Regions from separate parts of the Homo sapiens genome. Here region 1 is linked to region 2. The links come from fine-mapping of genetic effects on gene expression. Tissue or cell type: aorta. Region 2 holds a variant in brackets; the other region holds the start of a gene. All regions are shown on one strand. Distances are from middle to middle.

Region 1 (2,663 bases), 60 kb after region 2:
AAACACCTTCTAAGATCTCCTTTTGATGGTTTGAATGATTTGAGTTTGGGCAAAATTGTCAATCATTTATTTGTCTTTTAAAAAATGAACTCTAAGGGATATCATCAGATTTTTTTTTCCTTTTTCTGAGACAGAGTCTCACTTTGTCACCCAGGCTGGAGTACAGTGGCGCAGATCTCGGCTCACTGCAACCTCTGGCTCCCGGGTTCAAGTGATTCTCCTGCCTCAGCCTCCGGAGTAGCTGGGATTACAGGCGCCTGCCACCATGCCCGGCTACTTTTTGTATTTTTAGTAGAGACGGGGTTTCACCATGTTAGCCAGGCTGTTCCCAAACTCCTGACCTCAGGCAATCCGGCCGCCTCAGCCTCCCAAAGTGCTGGGATTACAGGCGTGAGCCACCGAGCCCGGCCAGACTTGACTTTTTTTTTTTTTTTTTAACAAATGAGCCATCATACCAGGAGCTGAGTTCTTATCAAACGGCCGGTGAGAGGCCAAGCAACAACCCTAAATGCTACCAAGCTCAAATTGTTGGCCTTGCAGCAACTACAGCAAAAGGGATGAATTCTTCCCTTTAGTGCAAAGAGCCAAGAGGGCTTCTGAACTGACACAGAGGGGAAGGATAGGAGCTGAAGACATCAGGAAACAGTGAATGGGGTTTGTCCACCAGCAGGTGACTACGGAGCTTGATGCTATATGCTATTCTAAGAGGGCAGCGGTATCATTTCAAAGGTTATTTGGGGGATGAGCTATTTTCTCTTCAGTGACCCAGAAGATTCCCTCGATCATTCAGGGTACTGGGGAAGAAAGGCAACTGCCTTCACGAGTGAACATGGCAATCAATATGGCCAAAAAGGGAGGGGGTACTAATGGAGAAACAGTTCTTGTGCCCCAACAGGTGAGCAGACCCCAAGTAACAATAACTACGTGCCAGGCCCTTCGCCGCTAATTGCAGGCCATGTCGTTATACCTTAAGAGACCCTGGTGGGTTCGGTACTGCCCTTCGTTTTACCGTTCGGGACTTGGAACTTGGTGAGCATAAATGACAGAACCAACAGTACAGGGTGGCATCTGAGACCGGGTCTGTCTGATTCCCACGCCCCTGACTCAAGCAACCTGACGCCGATGTCCGGGGCTGCCCTGAGGGTGCAGGCATGCCCCTTGAGCCGGCAGTCCGCGCACGCCTTCGGGGCAGCCTGGACTGGCGGATCAGACGACGTCAGGATCTGGGCTCGAGGGCCGGGAGATGAGGGAAGAGGTGCTGGCGGGGGCTTACCGGCTCTCGGGGTACGGCGCTCCTGCACAGCGCGGCCAGGCTTAGCAGCACGAGCGACATCGCCGGGCCACTGCGCGGGATCCAGGCCACCCGCACGCTGCGCTTTTATCCCGGCGCCGCCGGGCCGCCCCTTCTCGGCTCCGCCTCTCGCAGCGCCGACCCATTCCCGCCACCCGAACAGAGGGCGGGCCCGCTGGCCCCCTCCCAGGCTGGGGCAGGTCGCAGCGCCCTCGCCTGCTGGGGCTCGGAGGGATGGGCCGTGTCCGAGCGCTGGCGGAGCACGGGCCGCCGCGGCGCGCGCCTACCCCCGCGCACACGTGCATGCAGTGAGCCAGGTGCATCAGCTGCACCCGCCCTCGGGCTTCGCGCGCCTCCGCTGGAGCCCAGCTAGCCTCGCGGCTCCGGGGCCGACCGGGTCGGAACTGCTGCGTCCCCATTCCGGACGCAGAGAGCGCGCGGGGCGCCGGCGCCGCCGGTTAAAGTGCCGCGGGGCAGGGGCCGGGCCGCGGCCACCCGCTCCTCCCGCTCCGGTCCCGACTGTCGGGCTCTCGGCCGAGTCGCCCCGGGTGAGTAGCCGCGGAGGCGCCCCGACCACCCCGCAGCAGCGCCGCCCGGCCGCTAGCCCGGAGAGGCCTGGGGGCCGGAGGTTTGGGGCCGGGCTGGACGCCGAGACCCGGGCCCGCTTTACACAATCGCCCCGCCGCGCGAAGCGAAACGGGTGGAACGCAGACTGCCGAAGCTCACTGACTCCTTTGAGGGAGCGAATTCTTTCAGCTACGCGGGGTTAGAGCGGTAGGAGTGCCCGCTGCCCGACCCCAGGCTTTCTGGTAAATGTCTGTTTCCACCAAGTGAGTTCGGACAGCAACACCTGGGGCTCCCAAAGCGGAAGCCGTCAGCACTGGCGATTTGGAGCTGCGGTTCTCAAGTTTCCCTGGCCCGGGATCTCTAGCGCCGCCTAAAATGAGATCCAGACGGCAGGTCCGGGTCAGGCCCGGGATCTGCATTTAACGAGCCTCCACCCACGCCCCCGTAATTCGTGGGTGGGTGGCCCAGGGACCATCCTTTGAGACACAGTGGGTTTGGGGGAAAGTTCACAAAAATCAGCTGGGCTAACAGTGGAGTCACAGAGGCTGGAACTGCTGCTTCAGCCCCCTCGGTTTGCAAACGACAGGGTTGTGGTGACCAACTCAGGGCCATTTAAACTTGTAGGCAGAATTAGCTCCATTCTACAGATGAGAAGACGGAGGCCTAGAGAGGGGTATGGAACTTAGGGGTGTGTTGTCAGCTGGTGAGAGGCTGTACTAAGTCAAGCAGCTGTTTTAGCTGAGGCCCTACTTGTGTGCCAGGCCTGGCCCACCTGCCAGCTTGATTAAGGCTTGCATGGACTGGG
Region 2 (2,843 bases):
ATTCCATTGTAGTTACAAAAAATACTTCGAATGATTCCAATCTTTTAAAAGGTATTAATACTTGCTTTATGGCCTAACATATGTCTATACTGGAGAATGTTCCATGTGTGCTTGAAAAGATATGTGCTCTGCTGTTTTGGCATGGTGTATTCTAGAGAGGTTCGTTAGGTCTAGTTGGTTTAGTGCTGTTCAAGTCTTTCATTCTCTTGTTTATCTCTGTGTATGTCTTCTTGCCAGTATTGAAAGTGGGATGTTGAATTATCCAACTATTATTGTTGTTGAAATGTCTATTTCTTTCCTCACTTTTATCAGTATTTGCTTAATACACTTTTAAAGTCTATTTTGGGGTACATATATGTTTATAATTTTTATACCTTTTTGGTGTATTGATTTATAATACTTATCAAATATCCTTGTTTTCTACTGATAATTTTTGTCTTAAGGTTTATTGTATCTGATATTGGTATAGTGGTTCCAGTTTTCTTTTGGTTACTGTTTGCATGGTATATCTTTTTCCATCCTTTTACTGCCAACTTATTTGTGTACTTAAATCTAAATGTGTCTTTTGTAAGAAACACAGAAATCATTTTTAAAAATGTCTTCTGCCAATCTCTGCCTCTTAATTGAAGTGTTTATTTACATTTAATGTAATTACTGATAAGGCAGAGCTTATTTCTACCATTCTGCTATTTGTTTTCTATATGTCTTATGCCTTTTTGATTTCTACTCCTCCATTACTGACTTCTTTTAATTCCCCTGTTGCTTATTTTATCATATTTTAAAACTTATTTTCTTAGTAGTAGCCCTGGGGATTACAATTAACACCTTAACTTTTAAAACTCTAGTTTAAATTAATGCTAACTTAATTCAAAAATATACAAAAACTTTGCTCCTGTATGGTTCCGTTTCTTCTCCCCCCTTGTGCTGTTACTGTCATATAAATTACACCTTTTTTTACATTGTTTGCCTATCATTACAGATTTTATAATTATTGTTTAATGCACTTATCTTTTAAATTAGTTAAGAGGAAAAAGTTACAAAAATATACTTACACTGTGTTTTTTATTTACCTATGTAGTTACCTTTACTGATTGTAGAGGGGCAAATGGTGGCCGCCTACAAATATGTCCATGTCTCAAACCCCAAAACCTATGAAAATGTTACCTTATTTGAAAAAGAAAAAACAAAAGATCTTTGAAGATGTAAGACAGTTAAGGATTTTGAGATGAGATCATCCAGGTGGGCCCTAAATCTAACAAGTGTCCTTATAATACACACACACAGGAGAAGACAGA[C/T]GCAGAGGAAAGGGTGATGTGAAGACAAGGCAGAGATTGGATTGATGTAACTATAAGCCCAGGAATTCTGGGCAAGCCATAAGAAACTGGAAGAGGCAAGGAATGGGTTCTTCCCTTGAGCCCTGGAAAAAATGTGTCCCTGCCAGATTTTGAATTTCTAGCCTCTAGAACTGTGAGAGAATAAATCTCTGTTGTTTTAAGCCACCCAGTTTGTAGTAATTTGTTACAGCAGCCCTCAGAAACTAACACACCAGTGCTTTTTATTTTTCATGTGGATTTGAGTTATTGCTTACTGTCCTCTCATTTCAGTCTGCATTAATCCCTTTAGTATTTTTTTGTAGGGCAGATTTTAAAGCAATGAATTCTCTCAGGATATGTTTATACAGGAATGTCTTATTTTCTCATTCATTTTTGAAGGATAGTTTTTCTAGATATGGAATTCTTGATTCACAATCTTTTTCTCTCAGCACTTTGAATATATCATCCCACTGCCTTCTGGCCTCCGTGATTTCTGGTGAGAAATCACGTGTTAATCTTATTTAGAATTCCTTGTGTGTGATGAGTCACTTCTCTTTTGCTGCTTTAAAGATTCAACACAGTTTGATTATCATGTATCTAGGTATGGATTTCTTTGGTTTTATTTTATTTGGAGTTATTTTAGGTCTTGGGTGCATAGACAAATATTTTTCATCAAACTTGAACTGTTTTTGGCCATTATTTCTTCAAATATTCTTTATCCCTCTTTCCCACCTCTCTTTTGAGACTCCCATTATGCATATGTTTGTATGACTGATGGTGTCCTACAGGTCTCTAAAAACTGTTCACTTTTCTTCATTCTTTTTTCTTTATGTTCCTTAGATTGGATAATCTCAATCTATCAAGTTCACTGATTGTTTCATCTGCCTGCTCAAGTTTGCTGTTGAGCCACTCTAGTGGATTTTTATTTCAGTTTCTATATTTTCAACTCTAGAATTTCTATTTGGTTCTCTCTTCTTAAACAAAATTTGATCTCTTTATTGATATTTCTATTTGTCAAAACATCAGTCAATCAGTCATACTTTCTTTCTTTTTTTTTTCTTTTTTTTCTTTTTCTTAAACAGCATCTCATTCTGTCGTCAGGCTGGAGTACGGTGGTGTGATCTCAGCTCACTGCAATCTCCACCTCCCAAATTAAAGTGATTCTCCTGCCTCAGCCTCCCAAGTAGCTGGGATTACAGGTGTGCACCACCACACCCAGCTAATTTTTGTATTTTTAGTAGAGACAGGGTTTCACCATATTGGCCCAGATGGTCTCAATCTCCTGACCTCGTGATCCACCTGCCTCAGCCTCCCAAAGTGCTGGGATTACAGACATGAGCCACCATGTCTGGCCTTTTTCATTCTTTAGACATTGCTTGCTTTGCTTCTTTGCTTTGCTTTGCTTCTTTGCCCATAAATCTTTTTTTTCTTTTTTTTTTTTTTTTTTGAGGCAGAGTCTCAATCTGTTATCCAGGCTGGAGTGCAGTGGTACAATCACAGCTCACTGCAGCCTTGACCTCCCAGGCTCAA

The links. PIP is the estimated chance that this variant, and not a neighbour inherited with it, causes the effect.
Region 1: CHDH starts here. The variant in region 2 is fine-mapped to the expression of CHDH in aorta (GTEx, PIP 0.90).

The regions. Positions count from the first base shown.
Region 1 is chr3:53,845,259-53,847,921 of GRCh38, reverse strand. It overlaps CHDH (choline dehydrogenase), which reads left to right and starts at 1,503. Exons shown (of 9, transcript NM_018397.5): 1 at 1,503-1,839. IL17RB (interleukin 17 receptor B) reads right to left here and starts at 1,354. Exons shown (of 11, transcript NM_018725.4): 1 at 1,274-1,354. The coding sequence starts at 1,333. RefSeq lists enhancers at 1,306-1,600, 1,547-2,387, 2,388-2,663 and a silencer at 1,306-1,955.
Region 2 is chr3:53,905,590-53,908,432 of GRCh38, reverse strand. No RefSeq gene overlaps it. Among named protein-coding and RNA genes, the nearest start is that of SELENOK, 15 kb to the right of the region's middle. The variant C/T (reference allele first, on the strand shown) is at 1,296.